Regions from separate parts of the Homo sapiens genome. Here region 2 is linked to region 1. The links come from fine-mapping of genetic effects on plasma protein levels. Region 1 holds a variant in brackets. A gene starts in the other region. All regions are shown on one strand. Distances are between the middles of the regions.

Region 1 (8,337 bases):
TGGACAGCACAATTCTGGAATACACCATTTAAAAATTTTTCTTCATAGCACTCGTATTGTAAAATTGCTTTGTTTACTTGTTTATTCTCTCTCTTCTCTATGAGAACCTGTGGTCCACTAACAGCAGATTTCGTCTGCTTTTTGCGTAGTTCTATCCTTAGCATATAGCACAATACCTGGCACTTAAGAGGTATAAAAATTTTACAAATGACTTCCATCTGCCCCTCTTCTATCCTATTTAGGGAAATTGCCAAAAATGATTTTGTTGAAGGGAATCAGAACATACTGCCCCAAAATATGCCACTGTAGCATATTGATTATTTTGAGCTGAAGGCAACTGACAAACAGCAGGTACAGGAAGGATTCTCTGCCTTTCGCCTTACTATCTAAAAGCAGGGCATAAGTTTCCCATTAGAAAGGTATCCTTGCTGTATCAGGAAGAGGAGAACATTCTTATCACTGGAGATGGGGAATTAATGCTGAGATGAACCTATACAAACGAACTTTACTAAAATAATCCTCCATTGGTATAATGTTAAAAAAAATTTTTGGTTTCCCATACATATTTCCTAGTCACTTTCCCACAATTTACCATCTCTAGTCCAAATTCACTTTTTTTCTTACTCTTGTCACATCCCCACAATTTATTACTCTTTGTTAAAATGGTATATAAACCCCTGGGTCTAACCACTTCTTTGGAGTTTTCACTTTTTCTATGATGCCCCTATTCCACATAAAAATATTAACATCAAATGTGTGTGCTATTTCTCCTGTTAATCCATCTTTTGTCCATTTCGTTCACAAGCCCCAGCTACAGAATTTAAGATGTTAGAGGAAAAGTCTTTCCTCCCCTCCACTGTGCTGCCTTATTTGTTTCACAAGCCACAAGCACATGCCCAGCTCCTGCAATCTGAGAAGTTTACTTGACATAAGGGATTCGGATAAATGTTGTGGGACAGTGAGAAAAAGACACAGGAATTGTGGACCAGAAGCTTTCTCAGCAAGAGGGAAGCTGCCTTTCTGCAGAGACAGTTGGGGAGCTCCTGAGAATTCTCACAGGATCTGAGAAGCAGCCCCACGACATAGCCACAGAGTGAAAGCATTGAGAAACGCCTGTCGTGACTCCCAGACAGATTTGTCCCATGGTGGGGATATTGTACTACAATATCTTTTAATCTAGTCTTCTTTGAAGTGGAAGTTTTGGGGGTTCTAATTCAAGGTCTGCTGTACAACCCACTGTGTAACATCTGCTATGTAATCATCTGAGTCAGGAAGAAACAAATGTCATCCATCTCCAAATCAAAGCATAATCACATTCTTCATAAAACCACACAGACTTTAATCTCTCCTGAACCCAACTGCAGGGGGTCAAGTACTCAAACAGAGGAGACCCAGGGGTTCCACTAAGACCAACTCTCAATGTGGATATTAGGCTCCACCTGTAAAACCTCAGCATCCCTTTTCTGTTTCCTAAGTAGCCCAGAAGAAAAGTCCACACCTTGGTAGCTGATGGCAAGGCTGACACCAAGACCCAAAAAGCGAATCCATTGAAATAAAAGTGTAATGAAAAACTTACACTTTTATAAAAAGTGTAAATAAAAAAATGGAAATAAAAGAGGTTCTTTGTACAAAATAGCCTCCTGAAACTAAACTATTGGTACTATTAGCTACAATTTGTTGGTAGCCATGTGCCCAGCAATGTGCAGAGTATCTTTTGCATTCAGTTATTCCTTGGTGCATAATCTAATTGGTTTTGAAAAATGCATAAAGTAATGAATTTTTTAATAAGAACCCTATATTATTATTTTAAGTGTGAAAAACAAAATGTCTCCAGCCTATGTAATAATCCACCAAATATTTCTAAATATTTGATTTTTATAATATAAAGCAACTAGAAGATCAATTACTCAATTATTTAATGCACAATGAATTAATGGATACATTTGTGTACGGTATGCAAGGATACTGCAAAGAACACATGAATTACACCTTTCTTCATGAGAAAAGTTTACTCATAGAATGTGTGAAAACCAAGACTAAAGCGGATAAGAAACTTGCCCAAAGCTACACAGCTGATGGTGGAGAGCACTGTTAGTCACAATTCCTGCTCTTCGAAGAACAGGACCCATTCTTTTATTCCTTCCTTTTGTGCCATGGAGAACACAGGCTGTGGACCCACTGATGTACTTGTTAGGCAACCACTTTGACCGGTAATTTTTCTCTCCCTCCTATTTGATGGGAGTAGAGGTCAGTTAGGTGGCTAAGAGATTGGTCCAAGTCTAACATCAATCAGAACAAGGACATGGTACAACGAGAGCGTTGAATGAGTTTATGTTATACTTTCAAGTGCTACTCAGGTTGTTTGATGGGGCTGGGTAGGTAGGAAGAAGAATGTCTATGATGCAAGGAGTAGGACGCTCATGGGGCCATGAGACCAGGGCAGGGCTTGGTGTATGAGCACATGGCAGAACATGTGACCATATTTCAACCCATCTGAGATGCGGAGACTCCTGTCCATGCATCATTCTTCCTCAGTGTCTTTGCCATGTATCTTTCCAGGGTTGGAATTGGAATGCAAGGCACGGAACAGCAGAGAGCAGGGTCCGCACTATAATCGTGTGGGTAGGCATTCCACAACTGTGTATAAAAGGCATACAATATGGAAGGTACAATTGGTTTCTGGCTTTGGAAAGCTTGAAACAGCTGTAGAAGCATCTTCTTTTGTCGGAACAGAGATTTTGGTAACCTTGAATGAACACGTGTTGCATCACATTTGCTTTGATTTTTTGAGGCCTGCTAAATCAAAGCTTAATTGTGAATCAAATGACCACGGGCTGGAAACCTTCCTCCCTTTTATAATATTTGAATCGTAAAGAATTTATTTTAATACAGAAGGCTGTGGCTTGAGGAAAGAATACAGGTGGAAGCCTCAGAAAAGCTAACATAAAATAAGAATTCTTCCCCTGGACATAGATATGACAAAAAGCTCTACTGGGGCTGTTGGATGAGGACAGAGCTGGAATTTTCAGTTCGACGCCACTAGATTTGTTTTGTTGTTAATGTTTTTAGAAGTTGGCTCAGTTGTGTTTGGGAGAGGATATTTAGCAAAATGTCGCAAATACTGCCACCCCACAGGCATCAAGATCTGTCCAAGGCTGCTGCCTCTGGTGAAGCAATTCTTTGTTTAAGAAGAATGGACTCATTCAGGAATAATCCATTGATTTTCCTTTTAATCTTGTCAGGTGGGGGAAAAAGGTTTGGGGCGGGGGGAATCTCATAAATTCTGGGAATTAGTTTTAATGACTTTATAAGGAAATAAACTTTGGGAAAAGACTGATTAAAATGCAAGGAGAGGCTCCCCTTTCAAGCTAAACAGGCTACTCGGACACTTGGTAGTAATTGTCCACCACATCCTGGAGCCACATCACATGGTCTCACCCAGCCTTGAAATTCAGCTTTGCTTATGATCTATGCCAGGTGAGAGCCTCAGCTGACAAAAAACAACTTGGTAGCTGTCTTCTCCTACATCAGTAAGACAGCTGTCAGGCCTCCAGGATAAACTTTAGGGGTTTTAGACTGAAAGATGTTTAACATTTGATTTTAAACAATGGGAAATTTTATATTATAGAAACTTGAGAACTTAAAAGAAGACAGTCTCTTTTAAGTTCTCAGGTTTCTATAAGGTGTTTTTTTCTTTTCCGGAGGTGGGGGGTGGCTAACAATTGATTGTAAATATAAGAGAGAACGTGTATGTGTTTTTTTCCTGACAAAGAGCTGGAAGGATGTTGCCGATGGCAGGTACTGGCTCTTTAGGGTCTGTACTAGATTTAGTGGGTCTTCTGACTGACAAGAAGTTTTTAACTGAGAAGAGTTAAGATGAAATTGTTAGATAATAAGACAAAGCTGGGTGTTTTCCACACTTTATTCCATGACAGTTATGTCAGGGGCTAGGGCCAGGTGTGAATTAAATGGAGACCCTTAAAGCAGTGGTTCTCTGCTTTGAATGTGTCTAAGAATTGCCTGGAGAACTTCGTTTAAAATCCTCAGAATCAAGGACAGTGGAGGGGAGCCTGGGACACAGGTGGGTGGGAGATTCTGAGGAATGGCGCTGCTCTAGTGTCCCTGGAAAAGGAGGAATCAGACATTGCTGTGAGGCACAGGGAACAGAAGGAACTTGAGCTCCTATATCTGACTTTCTGCATATGTGTCCATGAGATCCTGAGAGATCTGATTCCTAAGGAGAACATGTATGTCCATGAGATCCTCAGAGATCTGATTCCTAAGGAGAACATGTATATCCATGAGATCCTCAGAGATCTGATTCCTAAGAAGTACATGTATGTCCATGAGATCCTCAGAGATCTGATTCCTAAGAACATGTATGTCCATGGGATCCCCACAGAGATCTCCCTGAGGAGCACATGTCCATGAGATCCACAGAGATCTTCCTGGGACATAATACATCTATGTCCACATGATTCTCAGAGATTTGATCCCTGAGGGCATATGTGTCCATGTGATCCTTGCAGAGATCTCCCCGGGGAGCACACATGTCCGTGTGATTTTCACAGATATCTCCCTCAGGGGCACATATATATCCATTTGACCCTCACAGACATCTGGCGCCTGAGGAACATGTGTTTGTCCATGTGGTCCTCACAGACCTCCCTGAGGAGGGGCTCATTATCCCAGCCTTCAGGGTGAGGAAGCTGAGGCTCCACATGTCTCAACACTAGAAGGTGCCAGAAAAGGGCCCTTTTCCTTTCAGAAACATGTGTAGGGTTATGGTTCTCATAATTATTGAAGTAGAATGTATTGTTTTGGAGTTATTTAATCTCTCACGATGTTCATTAAAACTATATTCTACCCCTTCTCATTAAAGAAAGAAAAAGCCAGGATCAGCCCAGAACTATTCATTTTCAAAGACTGCAGCTTGACTGAATTTATTTTAAATGTGCAATGCTCTCAGATACTTCACATTGGCTTTTTAAAAAATTCACTTTTTATACAGACGTAAAATTGGAAGCATTTTTACTCCCAACAAATTCAAGATACCTAC[T/C]TCCCTCTTTTTTCAGACATTTAGGGATATGAAGAAACCCCCTTAACCTCTCTTTTTACGATAGAATTTGTAGCATGAACCCTGCCTGTCAGCAGACAAAGTCCCTCAGATGACAGAACAGACTCGGCCACAAGCTGAAGCTCTGTGGTTCGCGCCAGAACCCGCGTGTTTGTGAAATTCAGAGGACTCTGTTTCCTCCCTCTTTTCATGAATGATGGGAGACATTTCCTAAGCTCCTTCCTGATGGGTGATTGGGGTGAACTGAAGCCTTCTGAGTAGGTAAAGCTGAGACTCACTTCTGCTTCACCTGCCTTTCTTTCACAGAGAAGGAGGGTGAAGCTATTTAAGATGGTGTTTCAAGTCCTAGGAATGGAACTGATTCAAATGGGGACCAAATTGGCTAAACTCCTGATACTGTCACAGAAAACAGTAAGTGCTAAACAATCCTTCCCCCAGCCCTGAAAATGGAGAACAATTTTGCATATTTACCTTCCCCCCTGGCAAAACTACTATTCAACCAGCCTTAATAAGGCACTTCACGTCATTAAAGGAGAACATTCCCCTGAAGCGAATCCTCAGAGGACATGAATAAGAGATGACTTCTGGTTATTTCCAGTGGGACATCTTGTGTTGCCATCTATATATATTAATGTCATCACAGATGAGTTGCCTATTATAACACATTTCCTCTGGGAACCATTGGGTATTTTAATAATTATTGAATTATTTATTGCTCACACAAAGCAGAGAAAAATTCTCTATGAGCAAGAACTCTTCTGTTATGAAAAAACAAAACACTTGGTCAGAAAATGTTCCCCTCCCCTCCCTCCCTCGCCTCTGCATGATTGAGAAAGTCTGCCAAAATGTATTTTGGAGACGGTTGTTAGCTTTTGTTTTACTTATTTATGTATGCTTTCATTTATGTATTTATGGGTTCGTCCTAAAAAATCTCGTGGGTCAGGAATGGGATGGTGGAGTAGGTTTTATTTTTTCTTTTGTAGTCATTTAAACACATGAGTTCTCACCTCCTTCCATCCTACCCCACCCTCCCTAATGAATAAATTCTTAGACATCACTGACGTCATATTAAAGTGACCTGGAGGCCGGGCGCCGTGGCTCACACCTGTAATCCCAGCACTTTGGGAGGTGGCGGCAGGCAGATCACGAGGTCAGGAGTTTGAGACCAGCCTGGCCAACATGGTGAAACCCCATCTCTACTAAAGATACAAAAAAATTAGCCGGCCGTGGTGGTGGGTGCCTGTAATCCCAGCTACTTGGGAGGCTGAGGCAGGAGAATCACTTGCACCCACGAGGTGGAGGTTGCAGTGAACCAAGATTATGCCATTGCACTCCAGCCTGGGCAACAGGGCGAGACTCTGTCTCACAATAAATAAAATAAAATAAATAATAACCTGGAGAGACTTTTAAAAGTTCTATCCCAGGCAAGTAAAATCTCAGTCTCTAGAGGATGACACCTAAACATGGGTATGCTGGGAAACCTATGCAGCTGATTCCAATCAGGGTTGAGATTCGCTTTGTAGGCTAAGATCAGGCTGTGACTCAGGCCTCAGGAGCCATGGGTGCGACTTCAGCTCCACCTGCAGCATCTGTCTCCCCAGCTCAGATTCCTCATCGTTAAGATGATTATCCAATCATTAACTACCCGCCATGCATAATATTAGAAAATACCATGCCAGGAAAAAGTACTCAAAAACCCAATGTTGGGCAAATATCAGATCGCATTATGCTCCAGCAAACAAATAGCAACTAAAACTAGTCACGTGCAAGTGCACTGAAGGCTTTAAGAAAAGATTAGTCAATCAGAAAAGAGGACTAAAAGTTCGCGCTCACAAATAAATGCCTCTAAATATGCAGAAGGGTTCTAGAAAGCCTTACATAAACATCATCCTTTCAACAACAAAAATGTCCCTAGGTGCTATACATAGAATGCTGATTTGCTGTATCCCAAATATGGAAATTATTTTACCAGAATGCATTGCTCAATTGCATATTGGAAGATTTGCCTGTGATTTTGCTTTACTGAAATAAATCCCTATAGAATCCATTGCTTTCTTTTGGACATGCCCTGATACCTGACCCCATTCTATTTCACTAACCAGATTGCAATCTCCTTGCATTCCGTTTCTCCTCCGTGGGCACCCAGTTTTCTCCAACAATGTTTTGATGAGGCTTCTTGAGTGGTTGTGGGGTGGGTGGTCACCAGCAGAGAGAACCTGTAGCAGGTCTGCCGGTTGGCCTGAACTCCCACGGCTTCTGCTATCCTGGGCTGAGGGTTTGTCTGTCTCAGTAGAAAAAACACGGCTGAGTAGAAGAAACAATGGCACCCAGGATACTGAGAGCTTTGTCCGGAAGCACATTTCCACGCTTCCTCCACCTTGAGTCTGTCTTGGATGGAGGTGAGTGTGTTGCCGTTTATGGGGTAAACTTGTAACCAAAGGAATTTCTGTGGTAAAGGGGAAAAATAAAGCCTTCAATTATTGTGCCTGCAACATGTTTGAAAGGATTCATTAATTGGGTGGCTAAGCTGATTTGCAATGACAAGCTGTTTCTACACAGCGGGGGTCTGTAGGTAATTTCTAACCCCAAATGGCAGGAAAGCACCATGGCTGTAGACTTTCAAACTGCACAGCAGCCAAAAAGCTTGCTAGATTCTCTCTCCCTAAACTAAACATAGCGTCACGTAAGTTTCTCCATTTACCAACAGGTGGTACAAGTTATAGGACCCAGGTTGGGAAACACCTTATGTTTATCCCATTATAAAGAACTCCAAGTGATTCATGGTCCTCATGAAAAAGAGAAAATAAATTCTACTAAATGACCAACATCATGTTGAGTTTAAAAGTTTTAGGCCAGGCGCGGTAGCTCACACCAGTAATCCCAGCACTTTGGGAGGCTGAAGCAGGCAGATCACGAGGTCAGGAGTTTGAGACCAGCCTGGCCAATATGGTGACACCCCCGTCTCTACTGAAAATACAAAAATTAGCCAGGTATGGTGGCACGTGCCTGTAGTCCCAGTTACATGGGAGGCTGAGGCAGAAGAATTGCTTGAACCCGGGAGGCGGGGGTTGCAGTGAGCCAAGATCGTGCCACTGCACTCCAGCCTGGGCGACAGAACAAGACTCCATCTCAAAAAAAAAAAAAAGAAAAAAGAAAAAAGAAAAAAAAAGAGTTTTAGACAAGGAAAAGCACTAGAAGAAAATAGTAATGTTCAGAAAACACAGGTCTTTTTTTTAGTTTACTAAGAATCAAGATTCTAG
Region 2 (8,308 bases), 81 Mb before region 1:
GGCTCCTGGGGAGGAAGGACTCTAACGGGGAAGGAACAGCCTGACGAAGAGGAACTTTGGGTACCAGCCAGCTGACGACAGCAAGATCTGGTCCGGTGCGCGCGGGAGGAAGCTGGGAAGGGACGTCGCGCCCAGATCCCGAGGTCCTTGAGGACCAGGCCCTCTCTGCAAGGAATCGGGGAGGAAAATCTCAAACTATTAATAGAAGAGCGGCAAAAAGGAATTCGTGCGCACCCCTCTCTGTTGGAAGGACCTTCCCTGCCAGAGACCAAGGCTGGCAGGACAGGTATACTTCCCTCAGGGGGAAACAGCCGACAAAGGTGGTCAAGGTCGCCCGCGCAGGCTCCGGAGCTGCACGTCCTGGACGAACACTCCCGTCCCGAGCACAGACGCTGGGTATTTGGCTGCCAGCCCGGGCCCGCCAGGCCGGGCCTGGCACCGCCAACACCTGCTCGGCGGGAACAGGAAGACCTGTGTTCGGGAACTCCCTCCGGCCACCTCCCCGTATCCTCCTGGCCCTCGAAGGTCGAAAGGTGGCCTCTCAGGGACACCCGCCGCTCGCTCGGCTCCTCCCCTCAGCCGGGAGACCCAAGGAATAACAGCCTCTGCGATAGGAGCACGCTCTACCAATCAACCGTAGTCTTCGCCCACGCCTCAGCCGGAGGAAATTGCATTGGTTGCATCATTCTCGGCAGCCGATAAATTGTTTTCTTGGATTGGCTAATAGCGTTCCTTCTCCCCTGTGCCTTCGTCGTCAGAAGCTGGCGATTGGTTAATCGCGTTGCCAAGCTTTGGACGCGGCTCGACCATTGGAGGCCGCGGGCCCGCCCCCGCCGGCTAGGTGAAGGTGAGTGTCTCCTCCAGTCGCAACGGCCAGACCTGACCTGCCAGCTCCGGGCGTGGGGTGAAATCTCTTGATTCCTAGTCTCTCGATATGGCACCTCCGTCAGTCTTTGCCGAGGTTCCGCAGGCCCAGCCTGTCCTGGTCTTCAAGCTCACTGCCGACTTCAGGGAGGATCCGGACCCCCGCAAGGTCAACCTGGGAGTGGGAGGTAAGGATGTAGTGCTCTGGAGTGTGAGCAGCTCGGGGAGTGGAGCGGACCCAACCCAGGTCGTGGAGACTGTGGGAGAAGCCGAGGCCCAGTGTGGCGCTGCCTGAAGAGGGCGGCGCCGGAGAGGAGGCTGGATCCACGAAGGCTTCCTAAAACCTGCCCATTTTACAGATGCAGGTGTGGAGTCCCTGGAAAGGGGCGATGTGTCCGAGGCCGCACAAACCAGGTGTAGCAGCCAAGACACAAACTCAGTCTTTCCGATTCCCCATTCTGCCTTCTTTATACTGCATCCTCCTAAGAAATGAGGCTGCCGGAGCTTGTAGAGAGAGGTAGAAAAATAGGAAGCCTGATAGGCTTAGGGTTCTGGTTGCTAGGAAATGGGTAAAGGAGAACTTTTAACGCTAGAAAGCTCTGTTCTGAGTCGGTAAATATTTGAGTGACCACCGAGTATCAATCAGCCACCTTATTAAGCTTTGTAGGGGGAGACTGAGGCTTGATTTTGCCCTTAAGGATTTAAAAATCTGCTGGTGTTACACAATGCTTTGAGACAGGTTAATGCTGCCCCCGGGGGGTCTGGGGAGATGGTTCTGGCCGTCACAGATGTGGTAGGAATGGGTAGAGATGGTGGAAAGGAGTGGAGAGAAGTATGGATGGTAGAAGCTTACTTTCCACACATCCTATCTTCATTTCTTGATTCAAGTGATTCTCTTCTGTACCTTGGACAGCTCAGAGCATGGGCCTCAGTTTCCCCATCTGCCAAGAAGATTTATATTGGAGTGCCTCTCAAATTTTTTACCCCTAACCCTCTCTGATGAATTTGTTATTCTTCTCACTATCATTTGGATGTTTGAAGCCCCACAGACACTTATTTTCTCCATTTGGATTTTGCCACGTGCAAAGACCAGCCAGAGAGATGAAAATGGGTAGGATAAAGTCTTATGCTAGGTAATAGACTTAGAATAAAAGGACTAGAAATTGTGGAAAGAGAAGGTGGAATCATTTTGTAGCAGAGTGTGACATGAAGGACGCTCAGAATCAGGTTTCTCATAGATAACGTTTTGTCTGTGCATAGCATTTGTTAAAAAAAAAAAAAAAAAGTCGGCCGGGCGCGGTGGCTCAGGCCTGTAATCCCAGCACTTTGGGAGGCTGAGACGGGCGGATCACGAGGTCAGGAGATGAGACCATCGTGGCTAACACGGTGAAACCCCATCTCTACTAAAAATACAAAAAAGTATCCGGGCGTGGTGTTGGCCGCCTATAGTCCCAGGTACTCGGGAGGCTGAGGCAGAAGAATTGCTTAAACCCGGGAGACGGAGGTTGCAGTGAGCCGAGATCGTGCCATTGCACTCCAGGCTGGGCGACAGAGCGAGACTCTTTCTCAAAAAAAAAAAAAAGTCTTCACTAAGGAGTATGGGGAGGGGTAAGGAAAAATCCATTGAAAAGTGATGGTTTGTTGAAGCGGGTAATTTGTTGAAGCTGGATGATGGGTACATGGGCATACGTTATATTATTCTCTCAGCTTTTGTATAGGTTTGAAATTTTTCATCATAAAGCTTTTAAGATAAGTCAGTACTACATAGTTTGGCCCATTGAGGGAAAATGATGTTTTTAGCAGGCAACTGAGTGGGAGAAATGTTGAAAGATTGCCTCAAATTGAATTTGAATGGACACCATTTGGTCTCTTAATTTAAAACCAGTCCAAAACCTCCAAGCGTTTCTTTGCAGCGGGATGTATACAAAGAACTAGTATTACTGTCAATCTAAATACATCTTTTTAAAACGTCAGATTTTGCCTGCCACGGTGGCTCACGCCTGTAATCCCAGCACTTTGGGAGGCCAAGGCAGGTGGATCACCTGAGGTCAGGAGTTCGAGACCAGCCTGGCTAACATGGTGAAACCCCATCTTTACTAAAAATACAAAAATTAGCCAGACGTGGTGGTGCACACTGGTAGTCACAGCTACTTGGGAGGCTGAAGCAGGAGAATCGCTTGAACCTGGGAGGTGGCGGTTGCAGTGAGCCAAGATCACGCCATTGTACTCCAGCCTGGGTAACAGAGTGAGACTCCGTCTCAAGAAAGAAAGAAAAAAAAAAACAAAAAACCACGTCAGATTTATTTTATTAATTCAATTTACCTTTGAACTATCTTACAGGGTTTCTGTGAGGATTAAGTACATTTAAAGTGTTTATAGCTGTATTTGGCACATAAGTAGGATTTATATAAGTGTTAGGTATTACTGTTATTGTTGTTTTGGCATTTCTTTGAGTGATTCTCATAAAAGATATTGAATAAAAATTTTCAGTTCAAGAACTGCAAAATGAACTAATTTATGACCTTGGTTCAGAAATAAACTGCTCCTGCAGAGAAAAAGCACCCCGACAGCACAGGCCAGAAGCAATGGACTCAGAATTGGAGTCATTGACTCAGACGGCCACCTCAGCTGTGAAGGTGCCTTTGTCATGTTTTCCAGGAACTCCAACTCCTTACCATGAGCAAATTATTTATGCATGTAATCTCACTGAATGCTCACAACTCTGGAGGGTGGTTTATTACTATTACTGTTTAGAGGCAAGGAAGCCGAAGACTGGAGAGGTGAAGCAATTTGCCCCAGGTCATTTGACCACTGGGTGGTAGAGCTGGGAATCCAGGCCAGGTCTCTCAGGCCTCAGAGTCTCTGCCCACACCTGTATTTCAGGTACCTCCAGGTGGTAGCCAGTACACTGTAGTGGGAAGAGCCAGGAGACCTAGGTACAGGCCCAGCACCGTGGTCCAGCCATGTGACTTGGAAGGGTTGTTTAACATCCCTGGGGCTCATCTGTTAAATGAGGAGCCAAGATTGAATGACCTCTCTCCCAAATTCTACTCTTAAGATTCTACTGGGCCAGGCATGGTGGCTCACGCCTGTAATCCCAACGCTTTGGGAGGCCGAGGCGGGCGGATCACGAGGTCAGGAGATTGAGACCATCCTGGCTAACACGGTGAAACCCCGTCTCTACTAAAAATACAAAAAAATTAGCAGGGCGTGGTGGCGGGCGCCTGCAGTCCCAGCTACACGGGAGGCTGAGGCAGGAGAATGGCGTGAACCCAGGAGGCGGAGCTTGCAGTGAGCTGAGATCGCGCCACTGCACTCCAGCCTGGGCAACAGAGTGAGACTCCGTCTCAAAAATAAATAAATAAATAAATAAATAAAAAAGATTCTACTGTACTAAAAGTCAACTCCACAATTCACTAGCACATTCTATGACTGTAGCGTAGGATAATAATTTTACTGGCCTCATCAGTTGTCTGAGGATTAAATGAATAATTATATGTGAAATGTGATATATAAATGAAAAGTGTCATATATAAGTGTTATTTTTGATCATCACTGTGACCCGTCTTTTTGTGGATAGCAGGTGTTTGGATAAGGATCTAATTAGAGTAGAATAAAAGGTCTCCTTCCAGCCGTTATATGTCCTAGTCTTATTTATACACATCCCCAAGTATACCCCTTGTGAAGAAAATGTAATTAATCATTGACCTTAGGGAAGATACTTTTTTTCCCCCAAGTTAATATAAAACCTAATGGAGGTTATCTAGTTAATGTTCCAGTGATTTTGGACACGTTTAGAATAAACTGCACCTGTAATCTCAGACAGTTCCTACTTGCAGCTAGTTTCCTCAGTTTTTCTTCTTGCTGTGATGATTTAAATAATTTCCTTATAGGTAAACAGAGGAGAGTATCACATTTTCCACTGCTAAGCACAATGCTTTCTAAGTTGATCATTTTAGTGCTTCTCAAAGCTTCAGACTGAAGTGGTTTTAAGGACATGGGAAATGGATCCAACCTGGTGCAACCTGTAGCAAGAAGTTTCTTCAAAGACTCCAGTCCATTTTTTCATGTGAGCCTAGCTTTCTTTTGGCCCAGATAAACTCTGCTAGCTTTAATATTTCTTATTTTCAACATGGTTTCCTAGCATCTTCAAATAAAATAGTTGGGAAAATATGCTTTATCAGATGTTTCTGAGTACCCCTAGCCTTCTCCCCAGTATCCTAATAGGCTCTTGAGTGGGGATAGGTGAGGGAAGTGGCGATCTTAGGAGGAAGATGAGGGTGATGGTTTGACCATTTAAATCTGTGTTCTTTCTTCCTTTCCTTCTGCAAAGCAAGACTGCTGGGCCCACCTGTAGACTGTGTGACTCCCCTAAAAGGGTTTATGTCCAGGAAGAAGAGCAGTGGGGCATGGAGCTGGGGAGCATGCTGATAAAAAGGCCCCTGACATGGTCCCAGGGGCCTGCTTGCTTCAGGCTTTCTCTAGACATCTCTTGCTTTTAAAAAAGCACATGGATCCATGAACTTAATAGTATGACAGCCTAGCTCTTGTTATCTCTGTGATCCTGGGCAAATGGTTTGACTTTTCTGGCTGCAGCAGCCAGATCCTTAAAATAGACATCACAATATCTATTTTGTGGGTTGCTATCCAAATTAAATGAGAGTAAAGAAATGTATTTAGTGCAGTACCTTGTATGTACAAAGTATTTAGTAAATCCGTGTTGTTATTTCTCTGCCCTCAGGTTCCGTCAATGTCTTTCTCCATGCCCCAGACCTCATCTCTGAATGTCAGGCCTACAGTGGACACATCCTACAACTCCCTCAAATTCAGCATGTTCAAAGCACAGCTCATCATTTCCACCTTCCCCTTGATCTTTTCTTCTATCTTCCCCTTGTGTTCTAGGTCTTGGTCGACCCCACTACCACCATCCACTCATTATCCAGACTTGAGGGAGACCTTGGAGTCAACAGCAGCCCTTTCCCCAATCCCCTGTCTTTTTATTTGGTCAATAGGTTCTGTCTTTTCTACCTCGAATCTATTTCCAATGGCACCCCTTTTCTTCATCCCTGCTGCCATTGTGTGAATTCAAGGCCTCATTATTTCGCTTCTGGAATATTGCAGTAGCTTTCTACTCCTTCTACTTCTAGTAACTCACCCTTCTTAACTACTGTCTCTGTCCTTCTCTCTGGTTTATTTTCTGTGGTGTCACTCAAATGATCCCATTAAAATGTGCAGCTGCTCATGTTACTCTCTTGCTTAAATGCTTTCAGTGGTTACCCATTGAAACTGAAGTTCCCTAAAAGAGACTCCAGGATTCTTTTAGCCACTCCCAGCTAATCCTTAGTGGATTCCACATCAGAGTCATGAAAATGCAGATCCTCAAAGACCTCATGCTCCCCAGGCCTCTGGGGCCTTGCACAGGTGTGCCCTCTCGCATGCCCTTCTTCCCTTGTTTACCTTTTAAACTCTTATTCATCTTTCATTCTTCATTCTCTGTAAAATCTTCTCTGATTCCTCAAATTAGAATTAAAGGCTCTATCTATGCTCTGTGTTTCTTGGAGGGCAGATGGGATCTTATTTTATCAATCTCTATAGCTTCTACTAGCCAGTGCCTGGCTCATGGTGAGACTTAGTAAGTACTTGTTATGTGAGCGAGTGAATGAAAGAGTGAATGAGAAACTCAAGGGTCCAACAAATAGGAATAAAAATTCTTGGGGACAGCAGGAATAGTGGTTGTTGTTAATGCCTGACCCCACTGCTCCAGTCACCCAAGAGGAATCTGGTTCTGCTTCACTAGGGCAGTTAGGAGAGGCATCAGGAACAAATCTAGAACTCAACCTGGGAAAAACTGGGCAATGGAGAAGGAAGGGGAGTTGTAAATTGGCCAGTTTTTTTTTAGTCACAGTATAGACACAATGCCTCTCCAACCATCCCCAACCCAAGTAGTAGTATTGGAATTTTAGAGTTTCACAGAGTATTCAGTAGTGGTAAGAACAGCAGTATTCCAGTCTTTTCTTTCTCTTTCATATTTTATTTATTCATAGCACATTATTTGTGAATGACATATTATCATAAATATAAACACATAGCCTAATAATGTTATAGAATAGATATAACACCCAGACACAGAACTGAAACATAACAGAACTGGTTTTTCTATAAACATCCCAAATTTTTTTGCATCTACCTAGTATCCTTTGTAGGTAGTTCAAATATGCTTTTCTTGTTCCAAGATTTCTAGAAACCCCTTTTAGACTAGCTATCAAGGCATGTAGGACCCACACAAGGGATCATTTTTTAAAATAATTGTTCTCCGTAAGTTTTACCCAGCTTATTCACTCACTCTTTTCAATGGAGATGATGCAAATGCTATTCCCGAAAAATAATTGACTTTCAAAGGACAAAGATTTGGCACTATTGAGGCTATTCAAAATAATGAGATGTTGCCTCTAGAAACAATTCCAAAAGAAGTTTCAAGAATATTTTGAACAATGGTAACGTTGTGATCATAGATATGTTGATGTGCTTTAGGGACAACTCTTACTTGGAAGTAGCTATTTTGGTACATCTTTAGAGAAGCCAGACCAAATCCCAGCTGGCGAAGGAGGCTTTTTGAACTTGTTGAGAAGTTTGGTGGACTAAGGGGTATATCATGAATGGTATGAGAGTATTGTGAGTTGGGCCAGGCATGGTGGCTCACTCCTGTAATCCCAGCACTTTGGAAGTCCGAGGCGGGAGGTTTGCTTGAGCCCAGGAGTTTGAGACCAGCCTGGGCAACAAAGTGAGGCCCTGTTTCTATGAAAAATTTAAAAAAAAAAAATTAGCTGGTCCTGGTGGTGAATGACTTTGGTCTCAGCTACATGGGAAGCTGAGGCAAGAGAATTGCTTGAGCCCAGGGGGTTGAAGCTGCAGTGAGCTGTGTTCGTGCCACTGCACTCTCACCTGGGCAACAGAGTGAGACCCTGTCTCAAAAAAAGAAAAAAATATTGTGAGTTAGATTCACCAGAGCCGGAGGGTAGACTATGAGTGGTATGAGAGTATTGTTTGATTCACCTACCCAGAGGCATTTGGTCAGTGGCTCTGTCAGTCTGTAGCCCTGTCCACATTTCTATTACTAACTTGAAATGTTTCTCAGATTTGCAGATGACATATTCCTGGAGGGTAGAGTTAGCTGATCATTCAAAATGATCTTATAAAGTCTTTTTACTGTATATCCTGTGACCTAATAAATTAACATTTAGATATTTTTCCTAAGAAAACACTCATGAATATGTGTAAATATATGAACATTTATCACAATGTTTATAATAGCAAATAATTTAAAGCAACACAGTTAATAAATTATATATAAAACAAATATTATTTATCCACTAAACTGATGTTGTAAATGGCTCATATTTATGAAAAATACCCAATTGCATTCATAATAAGATAAATGCAAATT

Direction of the effects. Positions count from the first base shown, and alleles are read on the strand shown. Strength reflects both the effect of a copy and how common the allele is.
With allele T in place of C in region 1, the plasma level of the protein whose gene starts at base 876 in region 2 is higher (weak association).

The links. PIP is the chance, under the fine-mapping model, that this variant and not a neighbour inherited with it causes the effect. The UK Biobank Pharma Proteomics Project read protein levels with antibody pairs (Olink). The fine-mapping took linkage between variants from a reference panel, not from the people measured, so its PIPs are less certain.
Region 2: GOT1 starts here. The variant in region 1 is fine-mapped to the plasma level of the GOT1 protein (UK Biobank, PIP above 0.99).

The regions. Positions count from the first base shown.
Region 1 is chr10:17,952,377-17,960,713 of GRCh38, reverse strand. SLC39A12 (solute carrier family 39 member 12) reads right to left here. Exons shown (of 13, transcript NM_001145195.2): 2 at 7,177-7,523. The coding sequence starts at 7,437. Among named protein-coding and RNA genes, the nearest start is that of SLC39A12, 4.6 kb to the right of the region's middle. The variant T/C (reference allele first, on the strand shown) is at 5,060.
Region 2 is chr10:99,423,192-99,431,499 of GRCh38, reverse strand. It overlaps GOT1 (glutamic-oxaloacetic transaminase 1), which reads left to right and starts at 876. Exons shown (of 9, transcript NM_002079.3): 1 at 876-1,052. The coding sequence starts at 935. GOT1-DT (GOT1 divergent transcript) reads right to left here and starts at 564. Exons shown (of 5, transcript NR_183993.1): 1 at 235-564. RefSeq lists enhancers at 296-725, 906-955, 976-1,035.